Linked DNA regions of Homo sapiens. The gene in region 1 interacts genetically with each later gene. Each region holds a gene or a part of one and is shown in the gene's direction. Other genes may lie near its edges.

What was found.
Region 2: of CASP8 (region 1) and BCL2, changing one suppresses a phenotype caused by changing the other (phenotypic suppression), as found in Homo sapiens cells (one study listed by BioGRID).
Region 3: of CASP8 (region 1) and BCL2L1, changing one suppresses a phenotype caused by changing the other (phenotypic suppression), as found in Homo sapiens cells (one study listed by BioGRID).

Annotation. Positions count from the first base shown.
Region 1 is NC_000002.12:201,255,891-201,263,609, forward strand, and holds the start of CASP8 (caspase-8 isoform 2 precursor), read left to right. Parts: upstream 1-4,645; 5' UTR 4,646-4,723; intron 4,724-7,719. UniProt on the Homo sapiens protein: Thiol protease that plays a key role in programmed cell death by acting as a molecular switch for apoptosis, necroptosis and pyroptosis, and is required to prevent tissue damage during embryonic development and adulthood.
Region 2 is NC_000018.10:63,309,770-63,316,769, reverse strand, and holds part of BCL2 (apoptosis regulator Bcl-2), read left to right. Parts: intron 1-7,000. UniProt on the Homo sapiens protein: Suppresses apoptosis in a variety of cell systems including factor-dependent lymphohematopoietic and neural cells. Regulates cell death by controlling the mitochondrial membrane permeability. Appears to function in a feedback loop system with caspases.
Region 3 is NC_000020.11:31,712,869-31,719,868, reverse strand, and holds part of BCL2L1 (bcl-2-like protein 1), read left to right. Parts: intron 1-3,024; exon of another isoform or gene 3,025-3,248; intron 3,249-7,000. UniProt on the Homo sapiens protein: Potent inhibitor of cell death. Inhibits activation of caspases. Appears to regulate cell death by blocking the voltage-dependent anion channel (VDAC) by binding to it and preventing the release of the caspase activator, CYC1, from the mitochondrial membrane.

The DNA of each region.
Region 1 (7,719 bases):
GACAACAGATGCATGCCACCATAACTGACTAATTTTTTAAAATTTTCTGCAGAGACAGTGTCTCCCTATGTTGCCCAGGCTGGCCTCGATCTCTTGGGCTCAAGCGATCATCCTGCCTTGGTCTTCCAAAGTGCTGGGATTACTGGTGTGAGCCACTGCACCCACAGCCTATTTATTGAGAAATGTGGAAGGCCCAGGCACTATTCTAAGTGCTCCAGCTGTTTTATCTCCCACAGTTTTGCTCAGATAGGAGTTCCAAAGCTGGAGCTGGAAGACTCATATTTTTAGAAATGTTACAGTTAATTCTGAGGTGGGTCAGATTGAGATTCATGGCTATGCATTAATGTTTAGGTGGTGACTAACCACTCAGGGTTTTAGAGACAAACAGACCTTATTCTGTCACTCACTGACTGAGCGTGGCCAAGTCTTTCAGCCTCTCTAAGCCTCAGTGTCCTCATCCATAAAATGGGACCAATCGTAGCATCCACTTCTGAGAACTGTTCAGAAGTGGAAATGAGCTAGTTTAGGTGGCTGTGTCTGGCATACGCCAATGGTTTGATAAGTATTAGCTTGTGCCTTTATTAGGCCAACTCCTTTTTGTTAGGTGACTGAGAAACCAAGGACCTTCTGCCCTTTATGCACCAGTCACTATTAGTTTAAATTTGTTGCTCTTCCATCCACATGATTCATTCCAAATTTGAAGTGTTGGAGAAAGGGAGTTAGTATGTCATAGAAAAATCTCTGTTTTTGGCTCAGCAGGACTGAGTTTGACTCCATGTAACTGTCTGAGTCTTAGTTTCCTCATCCATAACATGGGAGAACAATACCCTGAATTAGAGAATTCTGCTGCCAGAATTAGAGATAGTTCATGTCAAGGTGCAACATATAGGTAATGTGTTATTGCTGGTGTTCTGGTTATAAAATGTACAAGATGTGAAAGCAAAAGGGCAGAAAACCCTTTTTAAAAATTCATGGCTGGGCGCGCTGCCTCATGCCTGTAATCCCAGCACTCTGCCAGGCCGAGGCGGGTGGATCACCTGAGGTCGTGAGTTTGAGACCAGCCTGACCAACATGGAGAAACCCTGTCTCTACTAAAAATACAAAATTAGCCGGGCATGGTGGCGCATGCCTGTAATCCCAGCTACCCAGGAGGCTGAGGCAGGAGAATCGCTTGAACCCGGGAGGCGGAGGTTGCTGTGAGCCGAGATGGCACCATTGCACTCCAGCCTGGGCAACAAGAGCGAAACTCCGTCCCCCGAACAAAAAATTCAAATGGGAAAGAGAGGCAGATGGCAGAGAACAGGGGAGGGGCTGGGCACCGTGGCTCATGCCTGTAATCCCAGCACTTTGGGAGGCCAAGGCGGGTGGATTTCTTGAGGTCAGGAGTTCAAGACCAGTCTGACCAACATGGTGAATCCCCATCTCTATTAAAAATACAAAAATTAGCCGGGGGTGGTGGTGGGTGCCTGTAGTCCCAGCTACTCGGGAGGCTGAGGCAGGAGAATCACCTGAACTCAGGAGGTGGAGGTTGCAGTGAGTCAAGATCGCACCACTGTACTGTTGCCTGGGCAACGCACCGAGACTCCGTCTCAAAAAAAAAAAAAAAATGAGAGAACAGGGGAGGGTCTAGGGCTCAGAGCTTTGGAGAACAGACCTCAGTAGCACCAACACTCCAGGATCAATGCTACAAAGACACGGGTTACAACTAAACTGGAGAACATGGCCAAGGATGGGAACTCAGCCTGAGCAGGGCTGAGCCGAGCAGGGCTAAGCCAAGTAGGGCTGAGCCAGAACACTTCCTCCTTTTTTCTGAACAATCTACCTACATTTCAGCTACAGGGCTGGCTTTACCCAGTCCGGCGGGAGGGAGGAGAGGGCTGGTCTGTGACTTCAGTGCTGAGGTTTGATCAAGGCAAAGGGAAACTTCCTATTCCCAGACCCTTTGCAAGAAAGAATGGCATATTACTTGCCACCGACAGGGGTTATTATTACTAAATGGAGTCAGTATAAATGCTTTCCAATAAAGCATGTCCAGCGCTCGGGCTTTAGTTTGCACGTCCATGAATTGTCTGCCACATCCCTCTTCTGAATGGTTGGAAATTGGGCATCTGTTCCTTTAAACAGGAAACATTTCTTGTTCGAGTGAGTCATCTCTGTTCTGCTTTAGGAGTAAAGTTTACCCTGCAGTTCCTTCTGTGGTGAAGTTTTCTCTTTCTCTCGGAGACCAGATTCTGCCTTTCTGCTGGAGGGAAGTGTTTTCACAGGTTCTCCTCCTTTTATCTTTTGTGTTTTTTTTCAAGCCCTGCTGAATTTGCTAGTCAACTCAACAGGAAGTGAGGCCATGGAGGGAGGCAGAAGAGCCAGGGTGGTTATTGAAAGTAAAAGAAACTTCTTCCTGGGAGCCTTTCCCACCCCCTTCCCTGCTGAGCACGTGGAGTTAGGCAGGTTAGGGGACTCGGAGACTGCGATGGTGCCAGGAAAGGGTGGAGCGGGTGAGTGCCTGTTGCCAAGGTGGCCTCTTCAACAGGAAACCACAATATTTTTGTTTCTTGACTTGCTCTAGAAACAGGGCTGTGGGGGTGGGGAAGCAACTTGGATCTGCCCTTCTGAGGACACCTCTGGGTGCTGCCTGGCCCAGGTCTCCTGTGTGGTTTCTCTCTGAGCCGTTGCCTCTGACTTTGCTACTTTTTCACTCTGAGCAGTCTCCAGTTCCTCTGCTACCTTTTTGTCCTCCAAGCTTCCCTGCCGCCTCGAATGCAGATACACGGTCTCCCTCCTGTGGACCCGTTTGGAGAGTCCAGAAGACTTTATCAATCCACTTTTTTTTCTTTTTCATTTGGCCCTGGGGCCGACGGTTAAGTACTTTATTCTGTCATTCTGTCGAATCACGATGCCCTGAGGTGCACAGCCCCTTCCCCCTCTTCCGTGTCTGAAGGGTTTCCTTTTATCTCTCCACCCCCACCCTTGCCCTCCTGCCCTCTCTCTTGTTCCCCAAAGACAGTTCTCTAATGTTTTGATGTGGATTCGTGAATTTATCTGTATCTTTGCAAAATGTATTTTTCTTTTGTATGTGTACACTGTTTTTTAACTATGCGATCTCAGGCAAGTAATTCCTCTGTGCCTCTGTTATCTCATCATTAAATGATTAATAATGCCTCCAGAGGTGACTGTGAGGCTTGAAGGAGATAATACGCATACATCACTTACTACACGAGTTAGCAATTATTATTGCATATTAATACTATTGGTATTTTATTTTGCTCATTCTGTTTCTATTTCTTTTTTATTTATTTATTTTTTGAGACAAAGTCTTGCTCTGTCACCCAGGCTGCAGTGCAGTGGTGCAATCACGGCTCACTGCAGCCTCAACATCCTGGGATCAAGCAATTTTCCCATCTCAGCCTTCAGATTAGCTGGGACCACAGGCGCGTGCTACCACACCTGGCTAATTAAAAAATTTTTCTTCATAGAGATGGTGTCTCATTTTGTTGCCCAGGCTGGTCTCAAACTCCTATGCTCAAGGGATCCTCCCACCTTGGCCTCTCAAAGTGCTAGGATTACATGCATGAGCCACGGTGGCCATCCAGGCATTGATATTATGAGGCCATCTTGACCTAGCCCTCTCTGGTGAAGAGTCCTTTTCAGATACTTCGTTCAGTCTTCTCAGCTATGAGTCCCTACCCTCTGAAAGCTTATATTCTATTTGGGGAAAGACAAAAGGCAGTTTCAAAGAAGAGAGGTGTTTGATTTTCTTTTCCTACTTTTAATATCAGAAAACATTTCATCTAACTCTCAGTATGAAGGCAATATTTTGTTTACTGGTATATCCCTAGAGCCCAACATGGTGAGGGCCCCAGGATTTGCTTCTTTGATAAGATGGTAAACCCAGCTTTCAGCTAACTTCATGGTTTCCTCAGCTACACTCATATACAAGGATCACCTTTGGTAAGATGGACTTACCATCTTACCAAAGAGTTTTTGCATTTTAGAGTTTTTTCTTTTTAGATTTTTTTCATTTTAGAATTTTTTTATTTCAGAGTTTTTTCTTTTTAGAGGTTTTTCATTTTAGAGTTTTTTCTTTTTAGAGTTTTTTTTTTTTTTTAATTTTAGAGTATTTTAGGCTGCTGAGGGTGGAATCTGGTGACCTTGGGGCCACAGAGATGCTCCTTGGCTAAACCAGGGGCTTTAGCTCTGAAAGTTCACAGCCACCCTGAGAACCAAGATGAGAGGGCTCTGCAGTGTCCAATCTCAAGACCTCTCTGAGGTGCTCCATCAAGATTCATTGAATGAAAAAATTAAAGTCTTAATGATGAACCCAGAAAAATCTTTAAATCCTAAATATGAAATGAAAGTGTTCTTAGTTACAATCCAGTCCAACGTCCTTGTTTTGGAATGTGGAAATGAGGCCCCAAAGGTAAAATGGCCCATCCAAAGTCACAGCCAGGGGCCAGTGCTCAGGTGGCCAGGTGCCCTGCGTGCGGTCTCCTGGACCACCAGGCCTTTTTCCTGCAGCTTTAGAAGCTTTAGAAGGCACTCTGCTCACTCAGGGGCAAGTGGTAAGCGCTCTTTCCCCTCTAGTGTTTGTGACTCAGGAGTTTCGAAACAGGAAGTAGAGCTGGCTGGCTGTGCCCTTCCGTCCTTCATTAGACGTTTGCTCTTGTCTTAGATGCTCAGATGGTAGTGGATAGGCCTGTGACGAAGGTGCTACCATCGTGAGAGTAAGGTAAGGATTTGCCTCTTTGTTAAGGTCAGAGGGGCCTTTTGGGAGGAAGGCCTTTGATTCTGGAGTTTTCTAGGCTGCTGAGAGTGAGATCGGGTGGCCCTGGGGCCATGGAGGTGATCCTCGTATGTGAGTGTGGATGGGGAAACCATGAAGTTAGTGTAAGAGGTAGCAGTCCCTCTGAGAGCCTTGCCGAGGGCCGTGCAGTTTCCAGATCTGAAGGCCATTCTAGCTTAGACTGATGAAGTCCTAGGAGCTTCTGAAATGCTGCAAGTTTAACTACTTGTATAAAGGCCTCATCCTGATCCCAGTCAAACTTGTGAAATAATAGAAGCCAAAATTTAAATCTCTACTGACTTTGCTGCTACAGCTATCCTCCCACCAACACACATACCCACCAACATACACACTTGCCAACATAAACGCACACACACATACACACAAACACACCCATGTGGTCCTACTAATTCAATTATTTATTTTTTAAAGAAATTAAAAAAGACTGGGCGTGGTGGCTCTCGCCTGTCATCCCAGCACTTTGGGAGGTCGAGGCGGTGGTTCACCTGAGGTCGGGAGTTTGAGACCAGCTTGACCAACATGAAGAAACCCCGTCTCTACTAAAAATACAAAATTAGCCGGGCATGATGGCGCATGCCTGTAATCCCAGCTACTCGGGAGGCTGAGGCAGGAGAATCGCTTGAACCTGGGAGGTGGAAGTTGTGGTGAGCCGAGATCGTGCCACTGCACTCCAGCCTGGGCAACAAGAGCGAAACTCCGTCTCAAAAAAAAAAAAAAAAAAAAATTAAAAAGATACAGAACAGTTCAAAAAACAATATAATGGGAAGACTAGATAGACACAATCAGAGACCTGCACTTGTGGGGTTAAGAATTTACAGGTGAAGTTGCAAGTTTCATTCTGTTTGAAAATGATGGGATTATATGTTTTGCTGAGGTTTGGACACCTTTGCTGGGTTGTTTGAATGCCGTGGCTGCAGCGCCCTGTTATGGACATCATGTGCGTGCAGAATGGATGTCTGTCAGGTTCCGGGGCAGCCCGCAGTCTGAGGCAGCCAGCCTGGATTGGAGGGAGTGGCAATACTACCTGCCGGTTAGGGGTTTGGGCCTGAGAGCGAGTGGCTTTCAGGTTCTCTCAAGCTTCGGATGAGATGCAGGTTTCTGCTTCCGATGGCAAATGCATGTTTTGCTTTTTAGTTATCACTGCAAGAGCTAGGATGCTGCTAGAATATTACTGGAATGATTGTGATGAGATGGAATGTATTTACAGTTTAATTGTGACATGTAATACAGTGGTAGAATGGGACTCTGGAATGAGATGCTGGGGCCTAGATTCTAGCACTTCCTTTGTGAGGCTCTAACCCCCTCTCCTATAGTGGATTTGTTAAGAACTTCTGTTTTTGTGGCTTTGTTATTATAAAATTTTTTGAAATGTTGTTCTCTAAAAAAGTTATGATTTTATGTTTTTCTTCATGAGATTCTTTCACTGCCTTCCAGCTGCAAGTAGAATGACGTCTAAATCTTTGTGATCTGTCACTGAAGCCCTTGAGTGAGACACTTAAATCTGGCTGTGGCTCTCTCTCTTACTAGCTTATTTCCAAGCCGTGATTTTTCACAACAGAAAAATGGGGACAGTAATAGTAGTTTCTTCAGAGGCTTTTAGTGAAATGAGGTTAAAAAATATTTTTATGTTTATATGGATATATAGATTACAAACATTTATATATCATTTATTTATATGATTATTATAAACACATATTTATATTTAAATACTTTGGGGCATAAATATATAAAATAATAAATATACTTATGTAATACAAATAGACTTATATACATTTACTATTTAGCAGAGATTATATAAAATATATGTATTACATGGCAACATATTCAAATTTACATATGTTATATATACATGTGGAAAAAAAATTGGGAAAAGGCCACAAAATGTGACCAAAGAATTACTTCCAAATGGCAAGTTTTTAAGTAATTTTTATTTTCTTTTTATACTTCTCTGTACTTTCTCTATGAAACAAGTGTTACTTTTACTGTTTTTAGGAACCAAAAATACAAGTACATTGTTTAAAAAATACTAGCTTAACAAAGTTTCTAGCCCATAAGCTAGTGCAGAAAATCTAGGTCCCATAAAACAAGAACTGCCACACGATGTCTCTCCCCTTACAGTGCTGGATGGCCCGTTGTTAATGGTGTCATAAATCCTTTGCAAGTGACTGTTTTCTAGGTACTATGACTAGAGGGATGTGTAACTTAAGCAAAAAACAAAAAACAGAAAAGGCTGACTATCATCTGACAGTGTATCCTGGAACACCTAGGCCAGAGAAGAAGCCACGTTAGCATTTTCCCTTCTAAATGTCAGTTATGATTTGATGGGGAAACCACTTAAAAAGCATTGTCACGTTGTTGAAAAGGTAATGAAATGAGTGAGATGAGATGGCTATGGAGGACGGAGCTATGCGCCAATCTTATTATATCCAAATTCATGTCATCTCAGCCTTGGATTGTATTGATTTTTATTATATACTGTCAGAAAATGCTATTGAATGTGTAACAAGAGCCTCAAAAAGGTTTATTCATTTTGACACCATAATACTACTTTTAGGAAATTATTCTAAGAAAATAATTAGAGGTATTCTTAAAGATTTGCGTTTTAAAGTCATCCTAAATGTAATCAGGAACTGGCTATGTAAATTATAGCCCATCTCTAAGATTAAGTGCCTTACAGATATTAAAACCCATGCTGTAGAAGAAAAACTAAAGACAGGAAAGTACTTACAATACAAGATGTACTTACCAGTGGAAAAATCCACTTATACTACAGAAATATGATGTGTTCAAATATAAGGAAAAATGTGTATGCATAAAATATTTGGTAGGAAAGAGTAAAATATTACTGGGCATTTATATTTGGATGGTGGAATTATACATAATTTTAATTTTCCTTTTTATCTTTTCTGTATTGTCTAAAA
Region 2 (7,000 bases), on another chromosome or scaffold:
CCACATGTTTTTATTACATTTTACAAAGTGTGCTCATACTAGGAGGCCAAATAGAGAAAAGGCCAAGAAAAGTAGATGATTGATGTGAACATCTGATCTTATTTGACCAAAGTTGACAAAATATTGATGCCACTGTTTGGTGTTTAAAAGTAAGATTAACTAAAATGCCCCAATTTAAATTTCTAAAATTTAAATCCTCTTCTTGAATTGTTTGTTTGTTGAGATCTCACATTATCAGATCTTTAGTAATTCTGGAAGAATTTGCTAAAGGGTGAAAAGAATATTTTTGTTAAATATTTGGTTAAGTAGGTGGTTTGATTTTTAATCACTATAACTAAAGGGGTTGGGACTTCCAGATTCCCAAAGGATCCTTTTAAACCAAAGTAAAACTGATTTAATAGTTTTACTATTTCACATTTTTGTGAAAAATTCACACTTACAAATTTTCTTTCTACTTGAAATAAATCCAAGGTGGTAACTGGTATCTGTCTATCAAATAAGTTAATAAAAATGTGGGAAACAGAGACACATGTTTATGACAGAAATTAAGATACAACCTTGATATTTGTTGCTGAATTTCAGTGTGTTACCCTCTCATGTAACTGAAGTTTCTTTTTAAGTAAAGGCTCACTTTTTTCTTTTTGTGAAACAGAGTTTTCATAGTAGACCTATCTTTGTGGTCAACAGGTATCTGAGGTTGATAAATGTAGAGGCTACATTTTATGATGCCAAACCACAATGACATACCATAGAACATGATAAAAATTTTTTGACAAAACTGCTTCTAGTAAAAATAAATCATGTAGAAGCACAGATGGTTGATGGTAAAATATGTAATAGCTTTCAGAACAATGCATAGATGGTGACTATATAGGAAAACAAAGGAATTTAGAGAAAAAATATATATATATACCAGGAAATGCACTCATAGGACACTTTGGAATAAAAGTGGTAGTGTTTGAGAATGATGAATGATTTGCCTATCATTTCAAATGTGCATTATTAATCTAAAAGTCATTTTAGGCATTTGGCATACAGACAGATTTTCTTCACATTTACACCAATTGGGGTTACATCTCTAATAATATGTTGTATTTTATAGTGTAAGGTAGTCTTAATGGTAAAGCTTCAGAAGAGAGCTAGCATATTTTCTTGGCATGTGACAATAATCTGCACTGTCCCCAGGGCTCCGTGGATTAGCCCATCTCCTGAATACTACACTGAATACTCCAGGCTTTAGACTGCAAGTCATTTCTTTTTCTTTGCTGCTGCTCGTAGAAAATTGGAACCTTGTGAGGCTGAGGAAATCTGTTTGACTTTTGTGTTCCATAACATGGATAAATCAGGTCCTTGGAATGATCAGCCTCTGATAGATTGTCCCAGAAGACTACAAATTAAATAAAGACTAAAGAAGTAATTGGCTGTAGAGTGGAGTGTGGATTTATTCCTAGGTCTGAATAAGGCATTGTGTGGCATCCAGAGAGAGGCAGGACAGAGGAAGCAGTGAGAGAGAAGCAATTCTAGAAAATGTGGATACCTTGCTGCTCAGTGTGGCTTATAGACAGTAGCACATGCATCCCCCGGAGCTTTGTAGAGATGCTAAAGCTCAGCTCCCACCCCAGAGCTACTGAGTCAGAATATGTGGTTTGTGTGCACGTTAAAGTTAGCGATGCTGGCTACCATCCTTGGTTCCTGGTGGCATCTTTTAGGAAGAGTTGCTACCTGGGATGGATTCTGCATTGTCCCCTTCCAGTGGCCTTAAAGATCTATAGTGTTACTTGGAATACCGAGTATTTCCCAGGTGTCCACTATTGTGATCTGACTTTAGGAAGACATAAATTGGATGAAGGAGAGATAGCAAGCAGGTAGATCAACTATAAGCCCAGTCTTCTCATGAATATTTTTCGTAGTAGTTATATAGTTTATATTGGCATCACTGGTCCCATTAAAAAGTAAGATAGCTTTTCTTCAATTAAAGGCAAGAGAATTAGCTCTTTTAATAGCTCTGTTAGTTATTATTTTATCCCCTCATAACACAGTTTAAATTCTGTAAATGACTTTAGTGACCTTGCAGCTTCTTTAAGACAAAGGGACTCTTGCAGGCAAGGGATTGAGTTTTGGGCAGGTGATGGAGAGTGACCCTCTAAACTGGGAACTGTGACGACATTCAGCTTCATGTCTTAGGAGAGAGTGAGATAGGAGCCACTAGAAGAATGAGATGATTCAGACAAGAGATTGTAGGAGATTGGCTTTATTCTGTTGACAAGATGGTAATCCGACTTATTTTTTGGTTTTTTGGTGTTGGTGGTTTAGGAAGACAGGAACTTCTCCACACCCGGTAGAGTTCAGCTGCCTTTTCATTAGTCAGCAAGCAGTTTTTCCTTTCTCAAGGCAGTCCACATCCAGCAAAACATTTGATTAACTGGAAAGCAATACCATTCTCATGCCAGTGTACAAATTACATGAAAGAGCATCATTTTTCTAGTGTCTGAGGATTGGCTGCTTATGGCCAATTTTGGCAGCAAGACGATAGGATTAAAAATAGCTTGAAGATGATCTAGTCTTAAATAATATATTTCATGATGAACTTTCCTTGGGAAAGTGCATCTTTCTGCCTACAAGAATCACATGACCCCTTTCAATAATTTATGTAGTAGAGAAAAACACACTATTTCTCATAGAGTTTTCAGTCATGTGCTGTGGTGTGATTGTTTCTGGACATTCATAAAATTTTATAGTTAACTGAATTCTCTTTTCTGTTTTGTTGCTATTTAACGTCCATTGAAAACATGGCTTTCTTTTGCGCATTCTGTTACTTTCAGCTGTACTTTCTAATAAGAATGGATTGCCCTTTTTAGCAATCTTTGATTGAACTGGTACATTTCAGATTACTTAAATGTCATCAGGCCACACAGCATACCAGGTAACAGAAAGCCATAAATTAAAAATAAAAAAAAGGCAAGCAAAATTCTTGTTGTTTTTTCTTATCTCTGTTCCCAGTCCTATTGCGCTATTTGGAGGGATGATACGCCCACTCATGAGCGAGTGTGTGGGTGCTGCATGTTAACAGTGGTTCTTCCCACCCAACATACCTCCGCACCCTTTTCTAAGGTCACTCATTGTGTCTTAGCAGTAGTTTAGCAAAGCAGTATCTCAGCAGAAGTGCATTTGTGCTAGAAAACAACACTGTCTTTGTAGTGTACAAGTAGAACGTTTTCTTTTTCCCCCAGAGATATATTGTATTTGAGATTCAAAGGTTCTGTTCAACCTTTTTAAGGTAATCTAATATCACCTTATTCAGGTATAACAGTAACTTGTCAATCTGGTCATCCTTTCTGTCAACCACATGTAGGAGACCACTCAGTGAATTTACTCCACTGTGAATTTTCTCTTTCATCCCTCTTGGTTTGGCTTAATCAACCTTAATGTTTGATGTCTAAGCAGGATTAATGATGAAAATCATCCAAGGACTGACAGTTATTCCACAGATGTGATTGCCAGTCTTACATGAGTCCTGCCTTGGGTTAGGTTGGAGGCACGGCAAGGAGAGCTTTGCTTCTGCCCTGGATAAACTCACAGGCTAGTGTTGCAGGCATCTTAATAAACTCGTAGTTATCATACAGCCTGATAAGCATGATCCTAGACTCAGAGACTTAGAGGAAAAAAGCAAATAACTATAAGTTATTTTGCATGTACTTCAGCCTTGGTCTAAGAACGTTATTTCTGACCATATGGCTGTTCATGTGTGCATTAGGCCTAATTTAAACAGGGCCAAAATGTAGATACTTTAAAAAATACTGTGTAACGTAGACATATGCTTAAGAGAACTGAAAGGCAGGGGGAGTTCCCTTGTTAAATATTAACCCACTAAGCACTATTTATGCATACTAAGAAGACTTAATAAACACCAGTCTACAATTTCTAAAGCATTTCATTAATTCTTTTTAAGTAAAAGACAATCAAGGCTCCGATTAGACTGACTGGAACAGGGTAATTTGAAGAACTATCTTTCTTAAATAACTCTTGTATGCCAAAAAATACAAGTAGGTTTTGAACCAGAGCGGGGGCTCTTCCTTTGAGCAGGGGAAAAAAAAGCTTCTGTTTTGTTTTGGTTTGAGGTTATATTACTGTTCTATTTATCAAGACACTTCTACGATGCTAGTTACAGAAATTCACAGTCCATTGTAACACTGGCATTTGCCTTCGGACTTTTTTGGGCTTGTGGTCTGTTCGTTTAAATGGAGACTGTAAAACTTTCAAAATGCCAACAAAGCTGTTTTCACTTAAAAACATATTTTTATAGATTGTCACTTGTTGTTCTTATATATGCCCAATTCTGTATATGCTATAGCACTATTTCTCTGCCCTCCATTTGCCAGACAAAAGATACACCCATCTGTCCTTCAGTGTGAATAAGGATTGAATGATTATTCCTCTCTCTTCCAAGCCATGGGACTTTCTCATAGGTGCCACCACCCCTGTGACCATCCCCTACCTGCCTTATCATTCCACCGGTGAGGGACCTCTCAGGTGTAGCTCCTTGTTAACTTCCAATTAGTGATGGGTAGGATTTACCTGAAGAAAACCGTAATGCGCTTAGATACTAGCAAAAGGGAGCAGAAGTGGGGAGTCTAATCAAAGTGAGAGGATAACCCTCACCCCAAACTTGCTGCAGGCAGCTGGGCAGGTCAAAATTCTGTGACCAGACACTATCCTTTTCCTCTAGTGATTATAAACTTTAACCTGTGCAGAGAAAAGATAGTATCTGCTGGCAAAATTTGTACTTACTTTGATTCCTCTAGTGCAAGATTATAGTGGGGTTATACCTGAGACTTCAATAAATGTTTGACTAACTAAACTAAAATAGCTTAGGGTAAGGACTACTTCCCCAAACGCCCTTTTAAACATGTGAGAAAGGGAATCTCCCTGACATACTGGTATGGCCATTTGTAGCAATATACTGAGAGTGACTTGGGTGATTTTCTGGGGCGATCAACCACATTCCATGAGCAGGTTAACTGTGGAAGACACCTGCCCTTGAGCATCGCGTTTGGGCCACATGCGTCAATGGGGAAATTTGTGTTTCCATTCTGCTTCTTGTTTTGCCTTCACAACTTCAGGGATAGAAGCGTATTCCATTTTTAGTTAATAATCAGCTCTCTGGGGCTTCCATGTAATGAGTCAGAAACTGATGACTGACTCCACTCTGCTCATTATCATGTCTCCCAAAAACAACCCGAGAACCCACTGTGTCAAGTGAAGCTTTAATTTTTCAGGGGAGGTTTTCTCCATTGAGACCAATACATCTTTTCTTGTGACAGATCCAGTTACCATATTTCCTTATTTTTAACTGTCGAAAAGACAGTTAAGCTGCAACAGAGTATGGTGAGTTTACCAATTTTAATACTTGAAGCACCAAACAAAGGATCAGTGTTGCAGGCTGTCTCTTCTTGACTTTTTCCAGCTCTCCTTAGCAGATAACCAGGATGATATTTTTTCTGCTTTACAACATGATGAATGCTATATCTCTATATTAACTCTGAAATTGAATTGCAGCCAAATATTCCTCTCAGCTGCATTAGAATTTTCTAAAAGAACATGAGACACATAAACTTAGTCTTCTTAGTTCAATGCTATATCTCAGATATATTGATATCTGATTTACAATTAAAATAGGAATAAAATTAAGTACAAATTATATCATCAGCTTTAAATATTGATTTATCTTCTTGAAAAAAAAAAAGCGAGTCCATAAAGGATGGCAGCATTGGCATTTCTGGATGTAAAATTTCAGGGCTATCTCCTAGCCATATCCTTTATGGATTCCTGCCAGCATCTTTAAAAACACACACACTGAAGACACACAGAGAGGTTTTGAGGTATTTTATAACAAAATTATAAGAACAGGGAGACAAAGCCACTTACTAAACATTAAAGTGATAGTATAAGAAGAAAATGATTTGAAGAAGTCCTAATTGAGGGAAATGAGCAATTGTCCACAAAACTTAACCCTGGGTTCCCAGGAACCGGGGTAGTGATGGTCATGGAGAGGGGTTTTAGAATCTGGTTATTTAGGAAAACATGCACACTAACTTGTTTCATTGAAAAAAACATTTATTGAGGCCCTACACCATGCAAAGCTCTATGCTAGGTGTTTTAGTTAAGCGAAAAAATGTCTAAGATAACTTTTGCCTTCAAGGAACTTACCAATCAGTAGGAGACCAAGACAAGGATACAAATCACTGTAATCCTGGACAATGTGTAGTAGACAGAGAGGCCCAACCCAGCTACAGTGGTATCTGAAGAGTTTCATGCCGGAGATAATGTTGAGACAAGTTTTAGAGAACAGGCAGGCGATACGGGGAGAGGGTCTTTCAGGTAGTGGAAACTGGAGGCGTCAAAGCAGGCATGAATGCGGGAGGTGTGTTTGGGGAATTGTGGAGAGTCTGATTTGACTGGGGCATGGAGAACTCTCCTGAGATAAATCCATAGTTTTGAGAACTTACCACTGCATACTAAGTTGTGAAACTTGTATAGACAGCCCTCCCTATCTTTGGGTTCCACATCCATGGATTCAACCAACTTTGGATCAAAAATATATGGGGTAGGGCAGGCACAGTGGCTTAGGCCTGTAATCCCAGCACTGTGGGAGCTCAAGGTGGGTGGATCACTTGAAGTCAGGAGTTCAAGTCCAGCCTGGCCAACATGGTGAAACCCTTTCTCTACTAAAAATAGAAAAATTAGCCAGGTGTGGTGGTGGGCGCCTGTAATCCCAGCTACTCGGGAGGCTGAGGCAGGAGAATTGCTTGAACCCAGGAGGCGGAGGTTGCAGTGAGCCGAGATCGTGTCACTGCACTCCAGCCTAGGGGACAGAGCGAGACTCTGTCTCAAAAAATAAATAAATAAACAAACAAATAAATAAAATAAAGTATATAGGAGGATGTGCATATGCAAGTACTACTCATTTAATATCAGGGACTTGAGCATCTTCAGATTTTGG
Region 3 (7,000 bases), on another chromosome or scaffold:
TTGCCTGACTATTGTCTTTGGCCAGTGGTCCTAATACCAGGTGGGTTGTTGCCAGCTATAAACAAAAGGCAGTCTGGGAGAGGTGCCTGGTCTGCTAGCCAGCCTCTGCAGAAGGCTACCCCTACCAGAGAATTGCCAGCTGCCCAGTGGTGCATATGAAAGAGGTCTTAGACACAGCAACTCTGGGTAAGTTTATTAGATCTCCATGGGGTTGAAATTCCATCTTCCATCTCTTTGCTTAAGAATCATCAGAGCCTGTTGGACAACATACCACATGTCACTTCCTCTTGGTGAACAGAGGGGATGTGTGTGGAAGAGCCAGTTATATCAGAACCATTTCTGAGCACACATTCTCTCCCTAAGGCCAGGGAGTAAAGAACATTTGACTCAGGATCCTTTGAGCCTGGGTAGAAGGTACCCGCCCCCTTCCTCTCAGGTATTATCCTGTTCCAAGCTGCACCGACTGGCTACTGTGGTGGCATCGGGTAATTATCCTGGAGACTGCGGCTGGGAGATCCTTAAGGGTAGGAGTTATGGGCTATTCTACTCAGGGCTATGTTCTAAATTTAGCATCCCTACAGGAAAGGGGAAGGAAATTAGTCTTTATTGAGTACCTGTTAAGTACTAGGCACTGTGTTAGGTCCTCTACTTATGCAACCAGTGTTTCTTGAGCATCTACTGTGAAGCTAGCAGTGTACTAGGTGCTGGCCATAAGCCACGCATGGTACCTTCCTTCATGGAAACGGCATGCTGTTTCATATATTCTACAGTAACCTTCCAAGGAAGGTGAGTTTATTCCCAGTTTACACATGAAGGTCTTTGTGCCTAAGTGACTGACCCCAGGTGTCCCTCAGCCAGTTAAGTGTCTGAATGAGAATTTACACCAAGGTTGGCATAATTCTAAAGCCAACACTTTTCATCCTATCAAGTTGTCCAGGGAGTAATAAAGTGACCTAGACATGCTGGCCCAGAAAGCCAGAGATGCTGTTGGGCCAAGCAAACCATGCCTGTGAAGGTGCTCACTCTGGACTGATAACTGGCTTTGTTCAGGTAGCTATGGGAAGGATAGTTGGCAGTAGCAGGTTCCCAGAGGCGTGTTGGTAGCCTCAGATTCTGGCACTGGTAAAACTCAGACATGGCAGGTTTCAAGTGGGCATCAGGGTTTTGCCCAGAGTGAGCTGCTTATTAATTTTTTCTTTTTTTTTTTTTTTTTGAGACGGAGTCTCGCTCTTGTTGCCTAGGCTGGAGTGCAGTGGCGCGATCTCAGCTCACTGCAGCCTCTGCCTCCCGGGTTCAAGTGATTCTCCTGCCTCAGCCTCCCAAGTAGCTGGGATTACAGGCATGCGCCACCACACCTGGCTAATTTTGTATTTTTAGTAGAGATGGGGTTTCTCCATGTTGGTCAAGCTGGTTTCAAACTCCCAACCTCAGGTGATCCGCCTGCCTCAGCCTCCCAAAATGCTGGGATTACAGGCATGAACCACCGTGCCTGGCCCCGGCCAATTTTTTCATTGTTAAAACCCTCTCAGGCCCTGCCAATAGATGACAGTGGTGTGCGTGTGGGGAGAAGGTGGCCTGCCCCAGGTATCTCTACTTAGTGGTGGAGTGATGCTTCAAGGACTGAAAGTGTAGACCCTTAGCCAGATTACTGCCTGCCTGGAGTCACCTGATGAAATGCTGAACCTGTTCGGCTGTCTTGTCCATCTGTCTCTCCCGCCTGTAAAATGGAATAATGATAGCCAGCTGCCATAGCTTGACTCGAGTAAAGGATCTAGCACAAAAGCCCTTCTCCTGCCATAATTGTAGGGTGGAAACCCTTTAATGAATGGGCAGCTTCCCTCAGAGAACTGACTCTTCCCCCTAGAGTTTCTCCTTGAGAAACAAAGTCCCTGTGATACTTTCCTGGAATGTTGTATACATGACCTTCCCCGAAGGGACACAAGTGTTTCTGGTGCTTTCCAATGGGAATGTGGGAAGGGACCCAGGTGGGCCTTGCCACTTTGGGATTGCTGTCCCTGAAGAAATCCCTTAGCCTGATAGAAACGTAATTGTTGGGAGCAATGAACTGTGTTGGGGGAGAAAACATAACTTGGCCTTTCTTAAGCTGTATGGCTCAGTGGTCTGAGTTTCTGTAGATCTCTTATTGCCTAATGTGGCTTCTTCAGATGGATGTATGCTTAGTTGAAGCACCTCAGCTCCCTTTGCAGATAGTGGCAGTTCTGTGGTTTTCTTAGGGAAACCCCATTAGAAACCCCAAATGTGGAAATTTTTAGTAATCTCATTCGGGTCCCAAAATTAAGTAGAAGTGTCTCAGGGGCTCCCCCTTGAAACACCTACTTCTTCTGAGTGTACATTTGAGGTTGCTCTTAAAATTCTGTTACCATCACAGGGTTTTCCAGACTTCCTAGGAATAATTTCCCCAGTAGCCCCACAGAGCCCTTTAGCTTCTGTCGAAAATTACCCGGGTATTTTTTCAGGGGGCTCCAATGGAACCTGGAGGGTTTTCTTGACTTTTGTATGGGTGTCCCCAGATTTGTTTGGGCTGCATGAAACAGCAGTTGTTATCTCTGTCCCTTCCCCCAGCAGATATCTGTCCTGAGGCCAGTGGGCTTGAGCGTCCTCCTCTGTGTCCAGTCTCCCTGGTTTTGCCAGTGCCCTCAGCCTTCCATCATGGGGCTTTCTTGAAGCAACTGTGGTTTTGCCTGAGTTTAATGTGGATAGACATAGGGGTAATTCCCAGTGTACTGCTTTTCTACGGAAGTATAATCTCCTACTGCCTTAATTAAGCAGAGGCCCTGTCCCCACCCAACCTCCAACCTAATTCCACAGAGTCCTCCCTAAGGACTCCCTCTTTTTTCTTTGAAGGAGTCACTCTACTCCTGGATCCTCTTCTCTTCTGCCCCTCTATCCGACAGTCTGTCTTCCTTGTTCCCAGTTGGCAGACCTGAGTCAGGCAATCCCACTGGGTCTTTTTGTTTAGCCTGGGGAAGAGAAGACCCAGGAGAATATCACCAGCTTCAGATATCTGAAGGAAGAGGGACTGAGTCTTTTTTTATTGGTGTGGTACCTGGCAAAACTTGGATAAATGAAAAGAAGTTAACAGTTGGTAGAGCTTAAATTATGTGCAGAGAAGACATTTCTAACAGATTTACTCTGTCCTAGATTTAGGAGCTCCTCAGGGTGGAGGCCACATCTTGTCCATGCTTGTTTCCTCAGCACTGAGCAGAGGCCTTGGGCATAGCAGATACCTAATTGAAGAGAAACCCACTAAATTTCTGAAGAAACAGACCCTTGTCAAGCCAGAATAACAATAATGGGAGTGGCTATTTACCTAATAATTCATTCGTTGAGTCAAACAATGTTTATTGAGCTCCTACTGTGTACCATACTGGGAGTATGGCAGTAAACAAAAGTAAGCAAAACTAAGTTTCTGTCCTCATGGAGCTCACATTCCAATGAGGAGTGACAGGCAATAAATATATAATTACATGTTTATATCAGATGATTGTACATGCTATGAAGAAAATAAAGCAGGTTGGGGCATAGGGCATGTCTAGCAAGGGAGGGTGGGGCTGCAGTTTTAAAAGAGTGATCAAAGAAGGTGTAAGGGAGAAAAAAATGGCTTTCCTCTACCCTTCTAGGTCCTTTGGCTGGGCTGAGAATTAAATTGACATAGACAGATTAACTGGAGGAAAAATAATTAATTACATAGTTGTACACAGGAATCCTACAAAATATGAGGCTCAAAGAAGGGTCAGATAATTGAAGCTTATATAGCATCCTGAGCTACAGAAAAGAATATGGGGCTTGGGACTTCTGTTAGGGGCTTGAGTGGCAGCAACCCAAGTTATGGCAGGGTGAGGGAAAGAATTGGTGGTGGCGTGTGTCTGTGGTCCCAGATACTGTTGAGGGGGTGTACTGAGGTGGGAGGATCACTTGAGCCTGGGAGGTGGAGGTTGCAGTGAGCCGAGATCAAGCCACTGCGCTCCAACCTGGGTGACAGAGCAAGACCCTGTCTCAAAAAATAAAAATAAAAAGTCTCTCTGGTAATAAAATTTGTCTGGAGCAGCCCTCTTCCTAATACAGATACCTTTACTAGTGTAGATTTCCTTTTTAGATGTGAATTTCTTTTACAAAAGGACAGCTTTTCAGAGCTACTCTTATGTCTGCAGTTTCTCAGAATAACCAGTTCAAAATATGCCAAAGAAGTATATTTTTGGGGTGGCATATTGTTTTCCTACAGTCATATTTTGGGATGGTATGTCCTGAGTCCCAACAAAAGTATTACCTAAATTTATTTGAGCCAAGCGCTAAATGAGGTAAGGAGGTGGATGATGTAGGTACCCTACAGCAAAGGGTGTTTAAAGCAGAGGGAATGGACTCAGGAGGGAGCATGCTTGACATTTTCAAGGATGAGCAAGAAGGTCAATGTGGCTGGAGAAGAAACAGCAAAGGGGAAAAGGGTAGAAGGTGGGGAGGGAATGGTTGAGGAGGAGGATGGAGAAGTAGGTGGGGGCCAGATCGCATACAGCATTACAGACCATGATGAGGATTTGGCTTTGGTGGAATGGTCTGTATTCCTTTTTTTTTTTTTTTTGAGACAGAGTCTTTCTCTGTCTCCCAGACTGGAGTGCAGTGGCACGATCTCTGCTCACTGCAAGCTGCACCTCCTGGGTTCACGCCATTCTCCTGCCTCAGCCTCCCAAGTAGCTGGGACTGCAGGTGCCCGCCACCACACCCGGCTAATTTTTGGTATTTTTAGTAGACGGGGTTTCACCATGTTAGTCAGGATGGTCTCGATCTCCTGACCTCGTGATCCGCCCGCCTCAGCCTCCTAAAGTGCTGGAATTACAGGCGTGAGCCACCGTGCCAGGCCTGGTCTGTATTCTTAAGGGTGGCAACAGGGAGCCCAGTGAAGAGGCTGGTGCAATTGCCAGGTGAAAAAGAATAGTGGCTTGGACCTAGAGGTGGAGGTGTAGTGAGACGGGGACTGGAGAATAAGACCAGGCTTGCACATGGTATATTGATGGGTCCAGCCATCCTGGAAACCATATTTTTCAACTACTTGGAGGTCCTAGAATCAAAGTTAAGTAAGATAGATGTTCTTTGGGAATAGTTCTCTCCAAATGTGATATTCTGATGAATGGTCCTCTTCCACTCCAACAGTATTTCTGTCTGAGTAAATGAAATTTGTCTGAGTTCAGTTCCCAACTCATCCGTGTCTACCTATGCAAGCTCCTTTTACCTCTCTGAATCTTGGGACAAATAATAATACCTGCCTCACAGGGGGCGATGGTAAAGACACAGTGAGGTATACCTGAGATGCATAAAGACTGGAGCCATGTTGGTATCATTATTCTTATTATCTTTCCACAGAACGCATGTCAGAGACCCATTCACGGAATCTTGAGCATCCACTCTCCTTTTTCTAAATACCATAGTGACCCATCAGCACATCTCAGAGCAGGCCCTTGCAGCATTTCTGTTGTAGTAGGAGCTCCACAGTGTTTGTGTGCAATGGTGGTGTAAGCACTGGTCTTGGAGTTGGAATCCCAGTTCTACTCTCAGTCTCACCTTGGCCAAGTCACTTCACCCCCAGTCCCCAGTTTCCCTTTATGCAAGATGGAGGGTTTGAAGTAGGCAATAAAGGAATGCTGGTTCTCTCTATCCTTAGGCCTTGTGGCGGATTCCACCATTACAGCATATTTCACATTAGTTATATTTTAAAATGGCTCTCTCCTGTTGACAGATATGTCAGCACCTTAACTAAACCCAGTGTCAAGGCAGGCTAGTTTATCACTGAGCCCACAATAGTGCTACCCTATATTTATGTAACACCTTACAGCTTCCAAAGCACTTTCAGATCCACCTTGCCTTTTTGATCCTTATAACCACCCAGAGAGGTGAGCAGGAAGGATGACATCTCCGTTTCAAAGGAGAGAAATCAGGTGAGAAAGATGAATTGACTTGCCCAAGGTTACATCAGGAGGAAGAGGCAGTTTTTGGACTTTCAAATTGGAACTTGACTACTAGCTTGCTGTGTGACCTTGGGCAAGTCTTTTAACTTGTAAATGGCTATAGTAATGCCACCTTTTTCTGAAGATTGGGTGAATTAATTCATTCTTTTAAGGCTTTCATATCATCCTAGGGCTCTTCACTCACATCATCTGGCTTCTCTTTTTTTACATATTGATTTTTGAAATTGTGGTTTTGTATAAAGAAACTGCCTTTGGGACCGTCTGCTATTTGGTTTCATCCCTGATGAGACTCTCGGGCCAAGCTTGAGCCTTACAGTGAACTCTGAGCCACACAGCTTTTTGGGCAGCCTCCAGTGCTCCCCTCGGAACTGGAGGTTTTTCTCCAGCTCTTCAGGAAATGCCATTGCGATGACTTCCATGGACTGCTTCCTGTCCCAGCCCTGCCGGCAAGAGTGTGGAAACTGGAAAGCAATGTCCCTAGAGGTCCGCCCCCCAAAAACTACTTTTTTTGGACGTGTCCCTGCCTTTCCTCTTGTCCATTACTTTCTTTGCTCCCTACCCTTTCCTCCTTCACCTGGCTTCTGCCTCCAGCTGTGATCATCCCTTCAAGATTTAGAAAATGCCTTTCTACTTGGTTCTGCCAGGCCATTACCCCCTACCCTAGGCTAGGCTGTGAGGGAGGTCAGTTAGAATTCCTGGGTTCTCTCCTTGGCTCCATCACGCATTAGCAGTTTCAGTCCTGGACTTCCCCTGGAGATGCATTAAACCTGTTGCTTGCGGTGCCCTGTGTCATCCATTAACCCTGAGTTCCCCTAGGAGATTCCACCCCACCCCTGCATAGGATGGGATTCTTAAGAGATAACTTGAGGTTTGGCACATATAAATCCTGCCTCTTGGAAATTGATGATAAAGGGTGGAGTGAAACAGAGCCTGCCTTCCCCTCCCCCAGTCACCTTTGAGGAGGAAGCTAGAAGGTTGAAAACCTTGTTGGACAATCATCTGAGGAATGGGAGCTGGCCTGG